Regions from separate parts of the Homo sapiens genome. Here all the other regions are linked to region 4. The links come from fine-mapping of genetic effects on plasma protein levels. Region 4 holds a variant in brackets. A gene starts in each other region. All regions are shown on their forward strands.

What was found. A credible set is the group of variants that fine-mapping cannot tell apart. PIP is the posterior inclusion probability: the model's chance that the variant is causal. The UK Biobank Pharma Proteomics Project read protein levels with antibody pairs (Olink). The fine-mapping took linkage between variants from a reference panel, not from the people measured, so its PIPs are less certain.
Region 1: it holds the start of THPO, and the variant in region 4 is the best candidate, but not a certain one, in a credible set for the plasma level of the THPO protein (UK Biobank, PIP 0.57).
Region 2: it holds the start of PPBP, and the variant in region 4 is the best candidate, but not a certain one, in a credible set for the plasma level of the PPBP protein (UK Biobank, PIP 0.79).
Region 3: TREML1 starts here. The variant in region 4 is the best candidate, but not a certain one, in a credible set for the plasma level of the TREML1 protein (UK Biobank, PIP 0.78).
Region 5: it holds the start of EGF, and the variant in region 4 is the best candidate, but not a certain one, in a credible set for the plasma level of the EGF protein (UK Biobank, PIP 0.76).

The regions. Positions count from the first base shown.
Region 1 is chr3:184,376,182-184,380,292 of GRCh38, forward strand. THPO (thrombopoietin) reads right to left here and starts at 2,026. Exons shown (of 6, transcript NM_000460.4): 1 at 1,894-2,026; 2 at 66-223. The coding sequence starts at 78. It overlaps CHRD (chordin), which reads left to right and starts at 3,873. Exons shown (of 23, transcript NM_003741.4): 1 at 3,873-4,111.
Region 2 is chr4:73,985,905-73,990,000 of GRCh38, forward strand. It overlaps PPBP (pro-platelet basic protein), which reads right to left and starts at 2,286. Exons shown (of 3, transcript NM_002704.3): 1 at 2,052-2,286; 2 at 1,613-1,748; 3 at 535-1,470. The coding sequence starts at 2,199. The coding sequence ends at 1,368.
Region 3 is chr6:41,152,701-41,156,818 of GRCh38, forward strand. It overlaps TREML1 (triggering receptor expressed on myeloid cells like 1), which reads right to left and starts at 1,647. Exons shown (of 6, transcript NM_178174.4): 1 at 1,546-1,647; 2 at 1,058-1,390. The coding sequence starts at 1,588.
Region 4 is chr16:81,835,032-81,839,149 of GRCh38, forward strand. All of the region lies in intron 2 of PLCG2 (phospholipase C gamma 2), which reads left to right. Among named protein-coding and RNA genes, the nearest start is that of PLCG2, 58 kb to the left of the region's middle. RefSeq lists an enhancer at 1,952-2,141. The variant C/T (reference allele first, on the strand shown) is at 2,333.
Region 5 is chr4:109,911,235-109,915,352 of GRCh38, forward strand. EGF (epidermal growth factor) reads left to right here and starts at 1,649. Exons shown (of 24, transcript NM_001963.6): 1 at 1,649-2,228. The coding sequence starts at 2,102.

The sequences.
Region 1 (4,111 bases), not on the chromosome of region 4:
TCTCCTTTCTCTCTCCCCTTCTGTCATGTTTCCATATGGCCCTAGCCCCTCAGGTGTGTTCTCACCAGTCAGCTCCATTCTGGCCGGGGTGTCTGGCTGGCGTGGCTCCCTGTTTGGGGCCTCTCCCCTGAATCCTTCCTGGGGCCATGGAGGCGGCTTAGGCTCTTGCACTTCTGGGCAGAGTAGGGTGGGGCAAAGGCGGGCCAAGGGTGAAGAATCTATCCTGAAAGTAGCAAGAAGAGTGAACATTTAACCAAGTTTCTAGGAAGAGACTGCCTGGCAGGGTGAACAGATGCTGGGGAGGGCTTGAGATGCTGACCAGCCTGGAACTGCCAAAGCCCTGAATTCTCTCACATTTTCTTGTGATGAAAGCATATGGTGTGCCGGGTGCAGTGGCTCATGCCTGTAATCCCAGCACTTTGGGAGTCCAAGGCGGGTGGATCACCTGAGGTCAGGAGTTCGCCACCAGCCTCACTAACATGGTGAAACCCCGGCTCTACGAAATACAAAAAAACTAGCAGGGTGTGGTGGTTCATGCCTGTAATCCAAGCTACTTGGGAGGCTGAGACAGGAGAATCGCTTGTACCTGGGAGGCGGAGGTTGTGGTGAGCCGAGATCGCACCATTGCACTCCAGCCTGGGCAATAAGAGTGAAACTCCGTCTCAAAAAAAAAAAAGAAAGAAAGAAAGAAAGAAAGAAAGCAAGAAAGCATATGGTGTCTCCTTTTTGTCAGGACTCCTCAGTGAATCGGACATGGATTTGGTGCCACCTACCCCTGCTGAGAGCAGCAGGACATGATATGTATACACACATATCTTAATTAGCCTTAAATTCTGAGCAACCTTGGTTGTTAGGTCAGAGAAAATCTGGGATGGGGATAGAGAAGGAAAGTATTGTGGCTTCAGCCTGGAGAAGAGAGTGGAAAATGGGATGCAGGGCCTGGGTGAGGAACTGGCAAACGGGCGCAATATGTTGAGGGGTAACTTCTGCGGTGGGGAGTGGGGCTGGGGAGGGGAACTGCACAAAGCTGTAACTGGGACCACTAGAGGTCAGGATTAAAAGGCGGTATGGGAGAAATTAACCTCTATTCTTTCCCTATCTACCCCCACACATAAAGCCACTGGAGCTTTTCTCTGGACTCCAAGTCCTGAAATACTCCATTATCTGAGGCCAAGAGATGGGCTAACAGTTCTGGGACTTCCTTCCTGAGACCAGCTGCCCAGGAACGGGCACCTGCTGGGTGATGCCCACCTTAGGGGCTTACCTTGTCTTAGGCGCCCACTAACATATCTGTCTCATAGCTCACACCTGCCTCCCTGCCCCCTTGGCAGAACCCCTTCCGGTTCCTTCACAGGACCCCCCACATGGCTTCCTCCTCCTTTCACAAGTTGTGCAAAGAGGCTTGCACCTGATTCAATATTGGGATTTCCTGTAGGTCTGTCAACATGAGTGGGCCCTCCTCCCATTACCCTCTCCTTGCGCCCTGGCTTGCCTGGCCCAGCTTCCCCAGCACCAGATTCAGAACCTTAAGCTAACGAGGAATGACCAGCTAAGAATGGGGATTGGGGCTGTGTCCATCTTACTACTGTGTTTGCTAAGCCCTAAGTGCAGCTCCCTCTCTTATTTTCTCCCTGGGCTCATGTCCCCTTTCCTTAGGGCCAGCCAGGGCTGTGCTGTATTCCACCAAGTAAGTGATCAGTCCCTCAGAAACCAGCACCCCACCCCCTACCCCTGCTCTGCCCTGCTCCTCCCATTCTGGGAAGGCTACACTCTTCTCGACAAAGGTCAGTGCCTGTAGGTTCCAGTTTGCCTGCCCCTCCCCCAGCTGGGAGCCCATTTCTCTTTGCTGTCCTTTCTACCCTCACATAACCCCACACCCTGCTGGCCACTCACCGGGTGGAGAAGGGCTCCAGGACCCAAGTGCACAGCAGGCAGCCCTCTGGGGAGCAGATGGGTAGGAAGACATGTGGCGGTGGGGCACAGCCCCTCCACAGCAGCAGGTCATACGCCTGCCTGGGCCACTTCTGCCCAATCAGAGAAGGGAGCCACCAGACACTGGTGAAGGCCCCCGGAAGTGACGCCTTCTCTTCCCTGGAGCCCCTGCCTGGACCAGGGTCCACTCCTCCACCCACACACACCACGGAGAAGATTTGGATAGGGGGATCCATCTTTTCCTGGACATGGGCAACCTGGGACCTGGAGGGGGACAGGAGCAGAAGTTTTTTTCCAGGAGGAATCTGGCAGGACATTTGTGTTGCTGGGGAAGAAGCACAGAGGTCTTGTTTAAGATTGGTGGGGTTTTCACTCCCTGGCTATCCAAATTTCTTTTCCCTGGACATCATACCTGCTGCTGAAATCCAACAGGATGCTTGCTTTCCTGCTTTTCTTTCTGTAATCCCCTAGGGAGTCCTATCTTGTCATTCCCCCTTTCGAAGTGGGAACACGGATATTGCCCACATGAGAGAAATCTCCTGTTATGGGTTGGTGTTATGGGGAAAGGGTTTGGACGGGTTGAGTGGACTGTCAGGTGCGGGGCACATGTATGTGCGCACACGTGCACTGGGTTAAGCCTGAGCTTAGGTGCTCGTCTGCTGGGGTCCAGTGGCTTAGATGGCTACACACACAGACCTCTGTGCCCAGGGCCCTCCTTTGCTTGTTCTGTCTCCGTCTTCCATCTCCTACCGTTCCACATGTGACAAGAGGAATAACCAGGCCCATGTGTCCCTGTCTTAGGAAAGACAGCTGCTGGACCTCCCCCGCAAATACCTCCCTGCTGGCCCCCCTTTTCCTTTGGCCCTGGCTCTAGCTCCTTTGCTTTCTTCCCAGTCCCAGTCTCCCCACAGTCTCTGTCCTCAGGGGCTTCCTGGCCTGACCTTGATCCCATCATCCCCCTGTCCCCCAGAACTTCCTCAGGCTCTCTCCTGTTCCTCCTCCCCAAGGATGGGCATGTCTGCTGAGAAGTGTGGCCTAGATCCTGGAATTTTCCCGTCCAGCCAGACGAGATGTCTCCCAAGATTAGGAAGGAGGGTGCTGGGATAGCTGGGAGGATAGTGGGTGTGTGTGGGAGGGAGAGACAGGAGACAGGGAGGCAGGCATGACCAGGGAACCAAGAGAAAGGAGGCTGGGAGTGGGCTGGAGAGGCAGAGGGTCCCTTGGGTGAAGGAAGGGGGTGAGAAAGCAAGAGGGGACTGTCGAATGCGCCTGAGGATAAGTTACAATGAGAGGGAGATACTGTCACTCCACAGAAGGGGGAATGCTGCCGGTTTCTGGCTAGGTCCCTGTCCTGGGTAACACAAGAATGAGGAGCGACCTCAGAGAGAAGGTAGGGAGGCAGGCTAGGCAGTGAGAGAGGGTGGTGAGGGTTTGGGGGGCGCTGTGGGCCCAGGCAGGGGGAGATCGGCTGATGGACCTTTCCTGTACGTTGTCATCTTTAAAGACAAGTCTTCATCCTTCGGGCGGAACCGGGTCCTCGCTCACAGAGCGGTCCAGGCCTCAGGCCTAGCCTCTGCCCCTCCCTAGCCTGAGGCTCCCTTCCTGGGCTGGACACCGACCTCCTGGTCCAGCCGCCCTGTGGCCGCCAGCAGCGGGGGGCTCCGGGCCCGCCTCTCCTCCCCCTCTTCGCGCCCCCTGGTCCCTCCCCTCCCCCTCCCCCGCTCCCCCTTCCCCTCCCGCCCCTCCCTCCTCCCCTGCCCGGTCCCAGCCCCTCCCTCCCCTCCCCCACCCGCGATCCGGGCCGCTGCTGCTGGGTCGGACCCCCCGGGCTCAGCCCGGCCCCTCGCCGAGCTGCCGCCGCCGCCCCGTTTGCTGAGGAGGAGGCCCCCGGCCGGGGCGTCGGGCGCGGGGCATAAAACGGGCCGGAGCCGGCGCCCGGGGCAGTAGAGCCGCGTACGGCCCGGGTCAGCGCCCGCCCGCCCGCGCTCCTCCCGGCCGCTCCTCCCGCCCCGCCCGGCCCGGCGCCGACTCTGCGGCCGCCCGACGAGCCCCTCGCGGCACTGCCCCGGCCCCGGCCCCGGCCCCGGCCCCCTCCCGCCGCACCGCCCCCGGCCCGGCCCTCCGCCCTCCGCACTCCCGCCTCCCTCCCTCCGCCCGCTCCCGCGCCCTCCTCCCTCCC
Region 2 (4,096 bases), not on the chromosome of region 4:
AACTTGATTTTTCTCTTCTGTAACACTGGGGAGGATAATAATAATCATAAGAAATAATTACTAACATTTATGTGTGGCTTATTTATGACACACATTATTTTAAATACCTTAAATTTATTAACTTTTTTAATCCTTCCATAAACTCTATGAGGGAGGCAATATTATCCCCATTTTAGGGATGAAGAACCTAAGGTACAGAGAAATTAAGCAACATGACCTGATATACACAGCTAACAAGTGGCAGAGCCAGGTTACCTCATTATTCAAACTCCAGAGGATGTTCTTTTAACCAGATCATATCTATCTTTTAAAAAATTGTTTAGTTCATGCATGGAAAACACTTAGTATTCCTGGCATATTAAAATGATTAATAAATTGGAACTGTTATCATACTACATTAAGAATGACACCGATCATCAATTTAGTAACTTTTGTTGTTCAAACTGTGAAATACCAAGTATACAAAAAAGAGAGGAAAATTAAAGCTTTTTTTCCCCAACAATCCTGTTAAAATTAATAATAGATGACAACAAGTCAATAGCAAATTTTTATTTCATGTGAATATTTTTGTAAGAATAGTGTGGGTATAAGTTTTAGGGTTTAAAAAATGAATGAAAGTTCTGTTGATGAAAAAAGTAGAATTTAGAATTAGGAGTCTAGTAAGGTTGAAGTCCTATATTGTACTTATTTATAAGGCTCATTCTAATGATAGAATTATAACTATGTAGATATGTTAATTCATTTTCATCATCTATTTTTGTTCTACTAGTGGCAAATATATTCACTTTAAACCAGCTAACCACAGTTTATAAGATTCATATTCACCAATTTATTATTTTAGTGTTTGATGGCTAAAATAAACATCAGAATAAACTTTCAGGGAGTATTTTAAATAAGACATCCTAGGACTAAGACACTGAGAGACTCCATTAAGTTCCTAAATATATTAACAAAAATGTATTGAGCAAATATTCTCTGTTGGGCTCCATGTAATTCCTATTATCATTGACCATTATGAAATCTAATAATACCCATGAGTATGTCTAATAACCATAAAGTAGACCAGGAAAAATCAACCAAGTTGTGTTAGAATAGAAATTTTTAAAGAAAAAAATGCAAAGTACAGTCCAATGTTTAGGCAAGAATTAGAGGGTTGAAACCAGGCTTATTTATTTTCATCTTCTTTCTGCCATCTTTTAACCAACCTTCTCAGAATAAAATGTGATTTTTGAGACAGAATGAAACACATATCCAAATTTTAATACAGTAAGAATAGGTATCCTGAATAAATGAGAACTCTAGAAAATCAAGGTTTCAAAATTCTACCCTTCCTGGGAGTTAAAGAAGTTTGGCAGAAACAGAACAAATTAATCAGCAGATTCATCACCTGCCAATTTTTTCTGTACAATTTTCTTGATTCTGGGAGCATCTGGGTCCAGGCAGATTTTCCTCCCATCCTTCAGTGTGGCTCTGCAAAAGAGAACAGGGTTATCTGTGGGTGTCCTGATCTGAATATCAGAACTAATCCATGAGACTGGAGGAAACGAGTGCATATGTGGATGGAGGTAGAGGGTTTCTCTGATAAGGCAATAGCACAGAAACAGCAACTTACATCACTTCGACTTGGTTGCAATGGGTTCCTTTCCCGATCACTTCCAAACTTTGGATGTTTTTGGGATGAATTCCAGAGGTTGTCTTTATACACATGCAGCGGAGTTCAGCATACAAGTCACTGTCTAGACTTTCCTCTAGGGTAGAAAATGTGACCTATTGGTGGTCATGAATATTTTCCTCAGGTCTCTTATTTGCAGATTGAGGGCAATTGTACCTCTCTCATAAAGCCATTGTGAATATGATCTGTAACGCTTTAGTAAAGTGCCCAGAAGATTGCCCAGCACACAAGAAGTGAGAAGTGACCCCCCTGTGTGTCTCCTCCAATTGGAGTTATTGGTATAATGGCCCTCTCCAGCCCCAAAGGCACCAAGCTAGTCTTTACCCCAGAGACAGGTGTAGCAGAAGCAGCAACAAGTGCAGAGAAGCAGGGCCTCTACCTTTGCCTTTCGCCAAGTTTCTCTTAGTTTGTCCTTTGGTGGAGGAAGCCAGAGCAGTCAGCAGCAATGACAGAAGCAGCAGCACCTGCAAGGCATGAAGTGGTCTCGCACTGTTACAGGAAGGGGTGGTATCAAGTCTGAGGCTCATGGTGGAGAAGGCTGAGCTAGAGTTGTTTCCAGAACCAGAAGACCTCTGAGTGAGGGTGAGTTGCTGCCTACAAGTCTGCAGATAAGTGGCTTCTCATGCCCTGAAGATGTCATTTATATGCTCTTTCTCAAAGCCAGTAAGAAGGAAGAGGTAGGAAAGGAGGAAGTGAGGGTATGTGGTGATACACACATAAGCATTTGAAGCTGTGCCCAACCCAGAGAAAGACCAGACAGGTCAAATTCCTACTAACTTGCTTAATGTGCATCACTTCACATTCCCACTCTCCCTTTCTCAATACTTATCTTCCTTACACCTGTGTAAGAACTCCGTTCAGGAAGGTAAGAACTAGACTGAAATACTACATGCATTTTCTTTGTATGATTTATAACAATACGCCCTGCCTTTTCTATACTGCAGTTTTTAGGCTTAATAGAAACTTTAGGAGCACCTGAAGGCACAAACATGTGGCCCTTGAAAGAGAAAGTTATCTTTGCTTGCCAAAGAAAGCAAATGTTCTTTTCATGAATGTTGATAAATATTGGGATTGGTTTGGAGCATGTAAGTAAAATAAGAGCCAATTACCGTCAAAGGTTGTCTTTGGATTTTAGCTTATTGGATTCTTTCTGCCTTCAATCTATATTATCTTTTGTAATTTCATCTAGAAACTACAAATGAAACTCATCCTCCTTTATATTACAAAAGAAGCTACTTGTTTCTACCACCTAAGAATACCTAAAAAGTAGGACCCAGCATATTTATTTTTCTTTTTATTTTTAATTTAACAGAAAAATTATATAATTTATTGCAAAAGATTCGTATGCTGCAGATGTCTTTGAAATAAAACACAAATTTCTCTTCATCATTTCTCCACATTCCTACTATTCAGTGGTAAACACTGGTAACAATTTTGCATTAGTTTTCAATTCTGTCTGCACTTATATGCACACATGTATATGTATACAATGAGACACGTTTAAGACATAGAGGTACACATATACATAGAAGTATTGTATATGGATCACTATACAGCTGACTTTTATCCTTCAAAAAATATGTGTTCCTTATCTTTTCAGGTCATCTTAATGTAGTTTTCCCCCATTCTTCTTAATGACCATGTGACGTCCTGTGATAAGAACAATAGTTACTCAACCTTGCCTTGTTGGTGCCCTTCACGGTGTTTCCAATTTTGCACTATTAGAAATTGTGCAAGAAATGTCCTTACCAAGGAAAATATTTGTTCCTGAATTCTCAGACCCAAATTAAAGGTTTTGGTCTGAAATGCTATATCCCTACAAAGATAGAGAGGTGGACCTACACATTACATGTTGGCTTTATGTTATTTTCTGGTTCTCTGTCCCATCTGTAAGACTTCCTTCCTCAATTGAACCATGCACTTTTGTAGGGAGTGGCATGTCCTGTGTTTGTTTGAATGTCTCATGTATCCTATAACATGTAGGATACTTCAATATAAAGTAGGTCTTAAATAATTAATAAATCAATGAATACGTATCACATGAAAGCTTCCCTATCCTTTCTAATCACCTACAATTCCAGGCCAAACTCGACAGGACCCAAAGCAACTATGCTATTTAAATTTATTTGGAAGATTGTCAATAAAGAAGAGGCAGATGTAAGTGGCACTGGCAACAAGTTTTCTTCCTTTTACAACTATGTATAAGTCTCACAGAATATTATTTAAATTTTCCATATTCTTTTCTTACTTTTCATATCCTTAAATTTTAGAAGAAATGCTTAAAATACTAAATGTTCAAAATTACTCTCTATCAAAAAGATGAATATAGTAATTTTTTAAATCATGTTTTTGTTTTCAAGCCAATTTTCCCTATTGTTTAATAGTTATCTACTATGTCTACTCAAGTTCTCAGGTCCTGTTTTT
Region 3 (4,118 bases), not on the chromosome of region 4:
CGTCTCTACTAAAAATACAAAAATTAGCTGGGCATGGTGGTGGGCACCTGTAGTCCCAGTTACTTGGGAGGCTGAGACACAAGAATCACTTGAACCCGAGAGGCCAAGGTTGCAGTGAGCCGATAGTGCCACTGCACTCCAGCTTGAGCAACAGAGTGAGACCCTGTCTCAAACAAAACAAAAAACAAGGGAAGGGAAAATGCTCTACTTAATTTTATTATTTGGGGGTTGGGCATAAAATATGAGAAAAGGAAGACCTAAAGGTGAAAAAATGGCCAGTATCCATAAAAGAAAAGGAGTGGCTGTCTGTGCTTCAGGTAGCTGACCATTTTTTATTTTTAGAACATCCTATCTTTCTTAAAAAAAAAAACCCAAGTTTTTAATATTTTAAAATTTTCTTTTAACAAATGCTTATATACTAGAAAAGTTATGGGCTGTGGGAATGAAACCTGCAAAAACAGTGTCTTTAATACTGAAAATAGGGTCAAGAATATTGGCTTAAAATATTAATGACATTTTTCCATTTTTAAAACGAAAGGAGTTGAAGTTGTTCAGGCACTGAATGTACCTACTTGTAGGTGAGACATACTAGATGGCCTGTGAAGACTTATAAAATTAATTAAGGTATGAATTCCATAATTCTTAAGCCATCAAGCCCGCTATTACAGGAATAAAACACTGGAAGCTACAAAAATTAATTCTGGTTTTATACACTCAGATTCAACATTGTTTAAAATATTTCTAATTAAAAAATAAGTTAGCATCAAGTATGTTGAAAATGCTGGAAGAAGAGGCCAAGTCCCTGGAGTGGGAAGGACATGCCTTCCTGTGGGGAAGCGCAGTAGTGTGGAAGGGGGAAAGGGATGGTTTTCAGCTGATTTATCTCAGACTTCCCACCCAGTTTGGTTTCCGCTCCCTGCAGAGCTGTCAAGAGGATATCTCCTTGGAATGCCTCCTCCCCAGGGGCCCCCACTCCTCAAGAACCCATGAGCCCTGGCAATAGGCGGGGGTGGGGAGGGTAGGTCTAAGGGGTGGTAGCTGGCCTAGGATAACTCACCTGGGGGCAGTATGTTCAGAGAGACTCTGTGCAAAATCTGGGGCCCCCTGGCCCCATCCACCATGCAGCCATACTCGCCAGCATCCTCTTCCTGCAGGGTAACCATTTCCACCTGCAGCAGGCCCCCACCCAGGTCTGTGAGAAACGTACGCCTGCCCGCTGGAGCTCTGCGATCCACAGCTGAGGACACCAGGGGCTGGCACCCCTCCGGCAAGAACCGGCACCACACCTTCTGAGCTTTGACATCCTGGAGCCTGTAGTGGCACTGCACCAGAATGGAGCTTCCCACGGGTGCCTGCAGCACCTCAGGGAGGCTGCCAACTATGCCCTGACCTGGGGAAGGAAAGGAGGTGGGAATTTTGGGCAGGAGCTGGGAGCATCTCCCAGCCCAGCTGCTGGTATGGGTGTGGCATTCACAATAACACGTTACTCCTGGACATGGGGCTGAGCATATGGGGCCCAGAGCTGCAGCTCCTCCTGAACCTTACCTTCTAGTCCCAGGAGCAGCAGCAAGAGCAGGGTGAGGCCCATGGCTGGGCAGAGAAATGTCAACTCCTGGGCTTGCCTGGGCACTGATGCAGCATTCGCCTGAGGGCAGGAAACATCTGCCTCAGAAAGTCACTTGGGGTGGGAGAAAGGAAATGATGGGCACCTCCAGGGGTGGGGAAAGGGAGTTCTTCCAAGCCCTGGTTGGCTCAGTGCTCAGGAACTGCCCTGAGGGTAAGGGTGGGCAAGACAGGATGAGAAGACCCGAAGAAAGCTAGAAGCCTGCAGGGGCTGGGGCCCGGCTAAGGGGTGAGATGGGAGGATTGTGACAATTGGAGGACAGGAGAGGAAGAGGAAAGATGATCTTCAGGATCTTCCTAATACAGAATCTGAGGGTGCACAGCTATGAAGGAGGAAGGTAGAGTGCCCTGCACCTCACTCAATGCCATTCTTGCTCTCAATTCTTTGGGAGTGCCCCACGACCACCCAAGCTTTTAGGAGGTTGTATGCAGTACAACCTCAAACAGGAAGTTTCACCTTGATCCTGTGCCCTGGACTGGGTCTTTCTTCATTTATTGTCCTGGACACTATAGAACCCTTCCATCTGGATCCACATTCTTCAGTTCTGGGAAACAAATTCTTACTTTGATAATTACATGTCCATTTTCTTCTCCCCTTCCATTTTTCTGCAATTCCTTAACTAGTTGGTTATTGAATGTCGTGTGTTCATCTCATTTTCATATCTTTTCTATCTCATTTTCCATCTTTTTGTCTCTTTTGTTCTGCCTTCAAGGAGATTTCCTCATTTTCTTCCATCCTTCTATTTTTGTCTTTTAAAATGTTATTTTTTAATATTTTTAATTTACAAGACAAGATATTCCTTATTCTTTGAGCATTTTTAAATTCTGGCATACTATTTTTGTTTCATGAATGCTCTATCTTCTCTGTTGGAAGACAATTCTTCACAAATATTTTCACATTGCTGCATGTTCTAGTCCTTCTGTGCAAAGGGTATTGGCCAAGTTTTGCTGAAGGGTGATTGAATAGCAAACATACCTTGAGTGCAACGTCCAGAGATTTGCTCGCATTCTTCCTCTTCTTCACCGGAGATTTACATTCCAGAGTAAACGTTTCTCTCTCTCTCTCTCTCTCTCTCTCTCTCTTCCAGAGAGGAAGATATACCAGATTCTCTATATAAACTCCAAGTCTCCTAATTTGGGGGTTTCTCTCCTGTGATCCAAACTCACTGCCTGCACAGGAGGCACCTGGCTCTCATTCATGTTGCCCTGTGGAATTGGGCTCGAGGAACTGGGACAAAGTGTGAGTAATAAACCTAATAAACTATCTGACCTCAGACACAGGGGAAGCACCAGTGGTCAGAGAGACTACAGCAGCTGGGGATGGGTGGGAGGGGCGTATTGCCCTAATCTGGAGGGTAAGACCTAGAAAAGGGCCTGGAAAGGCCATTCTCCCTCACTCCCATCTCCTCCCGTCTCACCTTTTTTCCTCTTTTTCCTTCCTTCCTTTGGGAACAAGGGAGTGAGGAATGGGAAACTGGGAGCAGGAGCATGAGAAAATCAGTTAATGTGTTAAGCTGGGCCTTGTGGAAGTGGGAGATTGGGTGACCAACTTCCCGTTTTTGCTTGGGATTGAGGGGTTTCTTGGGACTTTCTGTGCAAAAACTGAAAAAGTCCTGAACAAACCAGGACGGGTCACCCTAGTTGGTGATGTGCTTATGTCTGTCTTGCCAATGCATATCAGGCTTTCTTTGATTTCCTTATAAGAAAGTTATTTTCATACTAACAAGCCACCCAGGCGTGTTGTGTGAAGAGGTGAACTGTATTCAACACTGGACTAAGTGTTGAATATGGTCCACTGCTGGGTGCTGAGACAGAGGTGACCAGGCAAGATCCTGGCCTTCATGGAGACATCATGTTGCTGGGCGTTAGATGAAGGAAACCAGTGTTTATTGAGGACCTACTATGTGCCAGTCACCTGGCCAAGGACCTTCACAATGTTATTTCTTTCTTTTTTTTTTTTCTTTTGAGACAGTCTCACTCTGTCACCCAGGCGGGAGTGCAGTGGCGCAATCTTGGCTCACTGCAACCTTGGCCTCCTAGATTCAAGCAATTCTCTGCCTCAGCCTCCCAAGTAGCTGGGACTATAGGCATGCACCACATGCCTGACTAATTTTTGTCTTTCTTTTTTTTTTAGTAGAGACAGGGTTTTGCCATGTTGGCCAGGCTGGTCTTGAATTCCTGGCCTCAAGTAATCCACCCCACTCAGCCTCCCAAGGTGCTGGGATTACAGGCGTGAGCCACCATGTCTGGCCACGAATGTTATTTCTTTCAACCTCACAAAAACCTTGCAAAGTAGGGGAAGTGGTTGTTTTGTTTATTTGTTTCTACAAGCGAGGGCACTGGGTTTTAGAGGGATTGAGGAGCTTGCCTAAGGTGTCTTAATAGGAGGCAGAGTTGAAATTTGAGGCCAAATGGCCTCACTTCCCTTCAGTCCAGAGTGCTCGCAGAGAGTCTGAGGCAGGAGAGCCTGTGGTGATTCCAGTCCAGAGAGGAAT
Region 4 (4,118 bases):
TCAGTGGGAGGAGGTGGAGGTACCCAAAGAGGAGGAAGTGGCCTTCCAGGTGCCACTTACTTGGTTTGGTGTCAGCTCTGTTATTGATTCACTGTGTGACCTTGGACAAGCTCCTTGTCTGCTTTGAGCCTTAGAATTTTATGTCTGCAAAATGGGTATAATAATGACTCCTCTGTCGTAGGGTGGCTGGCACGAAATGGGATAATTTAGGTGAAGCAGTTAATATACTACCTTACGTACAGCTAACACTTAGTAAGTAGCTGTTATAATAATAATGAAGATGGCCGGGTGTGGTGGCTCACACCTGTAATCCCAGCACTTTGGGAGGCCAAAGCGGGCAGATCACCTGAGGTCAGGAGTTTGAAAGCAGCCTGGCCAACATGGCGAAACCCCATCTCTACCAAAAATACAAAAATTCGCCGGGTGTGGTGACACTACTTGGGAGGCTGAGGTATGAGAATCGCTTAAACCTGGGAGGTGGAGGTTGCTGTGAGCTGAGATTGTGCCATTGCTCTCTAGCCTGGGCGACAGAGCAAGACTCGGTCTCAAATATAATAATAATAATAATCATAATAATAATGATAATAATTGAAGATAATAGGAAAACCATGTTATTACCTATATTAGTGTCCTGTGGTTGCCATAACACAAGTGCCACAAAATGAGGGACTTAAAACAGAAATGTACTTATTCCCTTGCAGTGTGGAGCTTAGAAGTCTGAAATCAAGGTGTTGGTAGGGCAGTGCTCCCGCTGGAGGCTCTAGGGGAGGATCCTTCCTCTCCTCTTCCTGGCCTCTGGTAGCTGCTGGTGACCCTGGGTGTCCCTTGGCTGGTGGATATTGGCACTCCCATCTCTCCCTCTGAGTGTGTCTCTGTCCAAATTTCCCTCTTACAAGGACAGTAGTCTTGGGTTAGGACCCACCCTAATCCAGCATGAGCTCATCTTGACTACATCTGCAAAGACCCTATTTCCAAAGAAGGCCACATTCACACATACCAGGGACTGGACTTCTATGTATGTTTTTGGGGGATGCAGTTCAACCCCCAACATTACCCGTTTATACTTTCTTTCCAGGGCCACCAAGGACAAGACCAGAGTCATTTTCATCCTGAATTGGTGTCAACTAGTGTTTTCATACCCTAGAGACTATCCAAATGACACAGCTGACCCAATCCCTGCATTTCTCAGAGGGGGAAACTGAGGCCCAGGGAGGTAAAATGACTCTCCCAAGGTCACACAGTAAGGTAGTGGCAGTGGGACTGGATCGTGGATCTCCTGGTGCCCTGTATTGGCCCACGTGTCAGCCATGGACTCGTATTCCCACTGGTGGAGCCAAGAGGTTTTTGCTGTCTGCAGGGGAGAGCACTTTGGATCTTGGCTTCTCGTTTCATCCTTCCCTTGGTAGTGGTTAAGAGTGCAAGCTTTGGGCCGGGCAAGGTGACTCATGCCTGTAATTCCAGCACTTTGGGAGGGTGAGGTGGGTGGATCACCTGAGGTGAGGAGTTTGAGACCAGCCTGGTTAACATGGTGAAACGCCATCTCCAACAAAAATACAAAAGTTAGCCGGGCATGATGGCACACTCCTTTGGTCCCAGCTCCTTAGGAGACTGAGGCAGGAGAATCGCTTGAACTCAGGAGGCTGAGGTGCAGTGAGCTGAGATTGTGCCACTGCACTCCAACCTCAGCAACAGAGCAACACTATGTCTCAAAAACGAGTGCAAACTTTGGAGCCTGGCCATTCAGGTTCAAGTTCTGGCTCAACCATTGTGACCTTGAATGAGTCAGTGACTCTCTCTGCTTCAGCCTCCCCACCTGTGGAAGGAAGACAGTCATCTCAGCCTTACATGAGTGCACAGGTGTCAGGACCCCTGCTGTGCACACGGGCATGTACTCAGTGTTTCTGTGCATGTGGTTTCCCTTCCCTTTCCTCCTGTTTGGTTTTCTCTGAAGCCGAAAGGTCCTTAGTAGGAAGTTGAGGACCAGCGTTCTCCATGGGAAGACTCAACATCAGTTACAACTCTAGAATTTATTCCAGGCCATCCAAGTTAAGGTAGTTGTCTGTATTTTGAGAACCTTTCTCTTGCTGTAAAAAGCAAACAAAAACAAAAAAAGACAAACTAGCAAACTCAAAGAACGAGAATACATATACATGCAGTGCTGCTTCAGATGGAAGTCAGAAAAGTGTGTGATCAAATGAAAGGCTGTTGTTGAAAGGGAAGTCTGCATTTACTCTTCTGCCAGTTCTCAGACTACCTCAACTCCTTGCTGACATTCCTAGGAATTGTGGTCCCAGCTGGCTTCTATAGCTGTGTGACCTTTGCCTTTTCCAAA[C/T]GAGTGGGCACCCTGCAGGCCACTTCCTCTGGGTTTCAGTGCCCAGCTTATCAGGAGGCTGCATGAACATCTATTTCTAGCTGGGCGGGAAATAGGACGGGTCCTGGCAGAAGGCGGAGCCCAGAGGTGGCTGGTAGAATCCCCTGGGAGGAGTAAGGGATGCTCTCCGCAGGGACCCCCGTGTCGTGGGTGCCATGGCAAAGCGTTAACAACAGGCAGTGCCTAGGGAGCCTGAACCAAGGTTGGGAGTGTGGTTTCCTTCTCAGTTCCCTTTCCGTCTTCCTGATTATGACAAGAACATCTGTTTGGTACCAACATGTGTTTTTTTTTTTTTTTTTTCTCCTTGATGCTGTGCATTTTTTTCCATTGGAATTTTTGTTGAGATAATTGAAGAATCACATAAAGATGTAAGAAATGATACAGAGAGATCTCATGTGAACGTTACCCAATTATCCCCAATGGTAATATCTTGCAAACCTGTAGTGCAGTATCACAGCCAGGATATTAACATTCACAACATTCATAGAACCCACTACCAGTCTTATTCAGATTTTCCCCCATTTTCCTTGTACTTGTGTGTATTTAGTTATGTACAATTTGGTCACATGCATAGCATCCTATATCTGCCATCATAGTCAAGAGACTAAAGCAATGTAATGATTTCTTACACCAATTCCATTTCCAAAATTTTAACATGTCTGTCTTTGAAAGATACTAATTTTCTTTTTTTTTTGAGGCGGAGTCTGGCTCTGTTGCCCAGGCTAGAGTGCACTGGCTTGATCTTGGCTCACTGCAACCTCTGCCTCCTGGGTTCAAGTGATTCTCTTGCCTCAACCTCCCAGCTTCCCAAGCACCTGGGACTGTAGGCACCTGCCACCATGCCTGGCTAATGTTTATATTTTTAGTAGAGATGGGGTTTCACCATGTTTCCCAGGCAGGTTTTGAGCTCCTGGCCTCATGTGATCTGCCTGCCTTGGCCTCCCAAAGTGCTGGGATTACAGGCATGAGCCGCCGTTGCCAGCCTGAAAGATATGAAATGTCTTTATTAAAATATAACTTGCAGACATAAAAAAGAATGAGTTCATGTCCTTTGCAGGGACATGGATGAAGCTGGAAGCCATCATTCTCAGCAAACTAACACAGGAACAGAAAACCAAACGCCGCATGTTCTCACTCATCAGTGGGAGTTGAACAATGAGAACACATGGACAGAGGGAGGGGAACATCACACACCAGGGCCTGTCAGGGGGTGGGGGCAAGGGGAGGGAGAGCGTTAGGACAAATACCTAATGCCTGCAGGGTTTAAAACCTAGATGATGGGTTGATAGGTGCAGCAAGCCACCATGGCACAGGTATGCCTATGTAACAAACCTGCACGTTCCGCACATGTATCCCAGAACTTAAAGTAAAATTAAATATATATATATATATATATATATATATATGTAAATAACATAGATGTGGTAAAATGCACACATGGTGCATGTAAGGCTCAAGGCTTTAAGCATGGGTCCACCTCTGTGGCCATTCCTCGGGTCCCGGTGACCCAGTCCTCTCTTTAGGTGACACCACTCTGACCCCATCAGTGAGTCTTGCATGGCTAATTGGCTTTGTGCCTCTCTTAAAGGCTTCTCATTTCCCTTTATGACTCACAGAACCAAGCCGAGGGTTTTGCTTCCAGCAGACAACTATTTCTAGGTAGAATTTAATCATATTGTCACGTTTCCACTGATTTTATTATTTTGCAGTTCCTATTGTATATGGTGAGTGTTACTGGTTTTCTTTT
Region 5 (4,118 bases), not on the chromosome of region 4:
ATCATCAGTCATCAGCCATAGCATCTGCTATACCTCTGTTGACTCCGTCATCTCCTAGGGAGCTTGTACTCAACATTAATGACAACATTAGCCCAGGTGACATGTAATTAAGAAAGCAAACCTTTTTCCAACCAAAAATAATATGAGAGATTCCAAATCCAAACAGAACAGAGCTGTGGATCATTTCATGTTTGTCTTCATATCATTCTCTCCACTCCACTCCACTGACACAGCGTGATGCTTGATTGTCCTCTAAGCCCCTTCCATTGCTGTCATCTGGGATGCTGGCAATGTATTGTGCTGAAAGGGAAGCTTATTAATAAAGTTAGTAACTCGAAGAGTCAGTGCAGGTTATTTGTAGGATGCTCATTATGAGTCTTGAGTCTGACTCAGTCCAGAAAGCAATGGAATATTCCGCATAACCACCTAAAGGACTTCTCTTTCCCCCTTCCCCAGGGTCTGTTTCTCCTGTAAGGGTTCAGAGCTGCCTGGCAGAGGCTGGCTGAAATAGGAGAAATCCTGACTTAAGCTGTTTCAGGAAAGTGATCCAGTCTTTGGAGAATAATCAGGACATAATTAAGTATGAGTAAAAGGCTTAGAGTTAGTCTGTTCTCCTCTGTAATGGGGTGTTCACTAGTGTGACAGTTGTTTTTGTGACTATTGCTTTTACGTACATTTTTGACCAGCACTTGGAACACTACCTCAGGGTAACTTAAATGAAAGTCCATTTTCCAGGATGGAGTAAACTGACAGAAATTTCCATCGTGCATCAAATCTGCTATAAGTTGTTTGCCTTCTGGGTATTTTTGGGCCCTAGTTGTACTCCTGAAGAAATAACCACTGTTGCTCCAAGTAGAAAGTGGTTGAGGAGACAGCTAACAGATACGTCCAGTTCTTATTTTCTATCACAGAGATGTGAAAAAAAAAAAGCCTAAATTATCTTAGAAGGAAAAGCATTCCTCTGTGCTGGATTTCCAGTGCTTCCCAGCTTTGCACTGTTAGCTTATTTTTTCCAATGTCCCTATAATAACAATCCACTCCTTTCTCTGCACTCCTGGCCCCTCGTGATGTTTTATCATGCTCATGCTGAAAGAAAAGGTGTCTGTCCATACTGTATCTCTTCATTTGGCCTCAGGGATTTCCCTTTGATTTGGAAAGAATAATCTTTCAAATTCCGCTATAAACTATACAGGAGAAAGAGAAAAATAAGATAAAGCTCCTGGAATGTGCACTGGTATTGACATTTCGTTCAAATAATGGGCTGAAGGTGAACTATCTTTACTATTGCTCATGTGAATGATCAATTATTATCAATCCAAACTATCAACAGTGCTGCTTATTATTGATTTATACTGCATGGTTTAATTTTGTCTCCATCCTTCCAGACATTAAAACATAGCCAATATTTAGCAGTTCCCGCCATTCACCATGAGCACCTCCACAGCCCCCAACTCCTCTCTCCCAGTTCTGCCCAGGATATTTATGGTGAGTAGCGAGTTATCTCCTCTTTGGCAGTCATCCCTGCTTTCCTGTGTGGAGGAATTGCCCACATTCGCATTTGCAAACAGAGGCTCACTCAAGTGTCACTAAAGGAAAGGAGGTGGAGCCTGAAGAGCTTTAAAAAGCAAAGCTGAGTCATTCCACTTTTCAAAAAGAGAAACTGTTGGGAGAGGAATCGTATCTCCATATTTCTTCTTTCAGCCCCAATCCAAGGGTTGTAGCTGGAACTTTCCATCAGTTCTTCCTTTCTTTTTCCTCTCTAAGCCTTTGCCTTGCTCTGTCACAGTGAAGTCAGCCAGAGCAGGGCTGTTAAACTCTGTGAAATTTGTCATAAGGGTGTCAGGTATTTCTTACTGGCTTCCAAAGAAACATAGATAAAGAAATCTTTCCTGTGGCTTCCCTTGGCAGGCTGCATTCAGAAGGTCTCTCAGTTGAAGAAAGAGCTTGGAGGACAACAGCACAACAGGAGAGTAAAAGATGCCCCAGGGCTGAGGCCTCCGCTCAGGCAGCCGCATCTGGGGTCAATCATACTCACCTTGCCCGGGCCATGCTCCAGCAAAATCAAGCTGTTTTCTTTTGAAAGTTCAAACTCATCAAGATTATGCTGCTCACTCTTATCATTCTGTTGCCAGTAGTTTCAAAATTTAGTTTTGTTAGTCTCTCAGCACCGCAGCACTGGAGCTGTCCTGAAGGTACTCTCGCAGGAAATGGGAATTCTACTTGTGTGGGTAAGTACTCCAATGAAAAGGTGCTCCAGGTCTCCGGGAAACTGCCCCCACATCCCTGTTGGTTCAATCTGGTATACTTGGGCATTTAACAAAGTTTGTCTTTGGGTATGTATAGTTGCTTAATTTTTGTTTTCTGATGCATGTTTATTTTCTTACTGGCCATTAGAGCTAATCTGCTACCAACTATAAAACTTCATAACTCTCAAACTGTACTTCTGTGTATAAGTGAATGAATATGCCTCATTTTAAACTAGCAGAACATTTCATGGAAGCTTCAGCTTTTACTCTGACAAGAGGAGTAATTAACACCTGGCTAATTGCTTGGAAATTAGGGAAACAGATGGTTGATTTTTTGTTTGTCTGTTTGAAACTCTTAAGCCACAAAGAAAAAAATCCTTCCTTCTGATAACTTGTAAGAATTCAGAAGTTCTAAAAATTAGTGAAAAATGGAAAGGGAACTGTGAACAAAGGTAGTTGTGAAAATTAACCTAAATTTCAATTTCAACCTCCTTCACTTTCTCCCCACTCTTACTGTTTCTGAGGCTCTGACACAACTCCGGAGTTTTAGTAACAGGTGCATTGCAACTTTAAGAACTGCCAAATATGATAATGGGTAAATAAGCCACACTGTCCTCTCATATTAAATGAATTTTTTGCCAAGGGGAAATGGGAGCTTGACTGAATGCGAATTACAATCCTGCCAAAGGATATTGCCTGAAAAACATTCTCTCTCTAACTGTTAATTCATTTATTTAATCCTTGGGTGAGCCTCCAACCTGCTGCTTAGACACGGCAGCCGCCTTTGTTGATGAGAGGTTATAGCTGCCCCGACATTCCATTTTTATCAGCTTGCCCTTTTGAGATGGCGTCTGGCTTTTAAAAAGAGGTAGATTGAGGGGGAAAACACAGTACAGTTTCCAGAAGAGACACCTATGGAAGACAGTACACAATAGGCAATAGTTTGAATAAAGAGAGCAGAATGGAGCCAAACTGCCAAAGCTAGGCTGCTGTCCTGGCTCTCCCATTAAGGAAGTTCCCGATGAGGAAATCAGGTGCTTTTGCTCAGAATCTCTGGACTCTGTTCTCAGGTAGCACTCCTTGTAACAGGTGAGCAGAACTCTAGGGTATTTGAAATAAAGACTTAATCCTAGTGATCTCTATGTTCCCAGCACCTAGGACATTCCTGCTTCCACAGTGTGTACTCAGCAAATTCTTGTGTATGAATGAGGCGTCTTTCTCTGATCTGCTAATGACATAGTCCTAGAGAACAGCAACAAAAAGAGGGTGACAAATGACAAAAATGGCCCCATGAACCTCAGACTCAGCTGTTGGAGACAGAAGTAAAACTTCTGTATACAGTTATGTCAAATGGACTGGACTCTCTTTGGGGTGGGAGAATTTTCCGTGGAGTAGTTGGCAAATATCTAGAGTTGGGCACTGTCATTTGCATGGGATGTGAGGGGTGATGGTTGGGCCGATCTATCAGGCAGCCAGAAGCTAGGAAAGAAGAACCCAGGTTGCTGAAGCAGAACCCAAGAAATTACAAAAATGAGCTTTTATGGATGGCTCTAGGATCTCAGAATAGTCTGATTCCTGCTGGCAAGCAAGTCTATGCCTTGTTTTCCTTGCCACCTCTGGTGGCTCAGAAGTGCCTTCATTGAGGTAGGTTGTACCCAATAAACATGAAACCCAGGATAGAAACAATAAGTTGGGGAGACTGTGTCACAGAGTGGAAGGAACCACAGGTTTTAGAAACAAACAAGCCTCATTTCATATCCATGCTACCAACTTAATAGCTGAGTTACTTTAGAGTATCTCTGGGAAATAATACCCTCGCCCACTGCTTTTAGGATTTTTTTGTGGGGAATCACATGAGATAACCTAGCATGT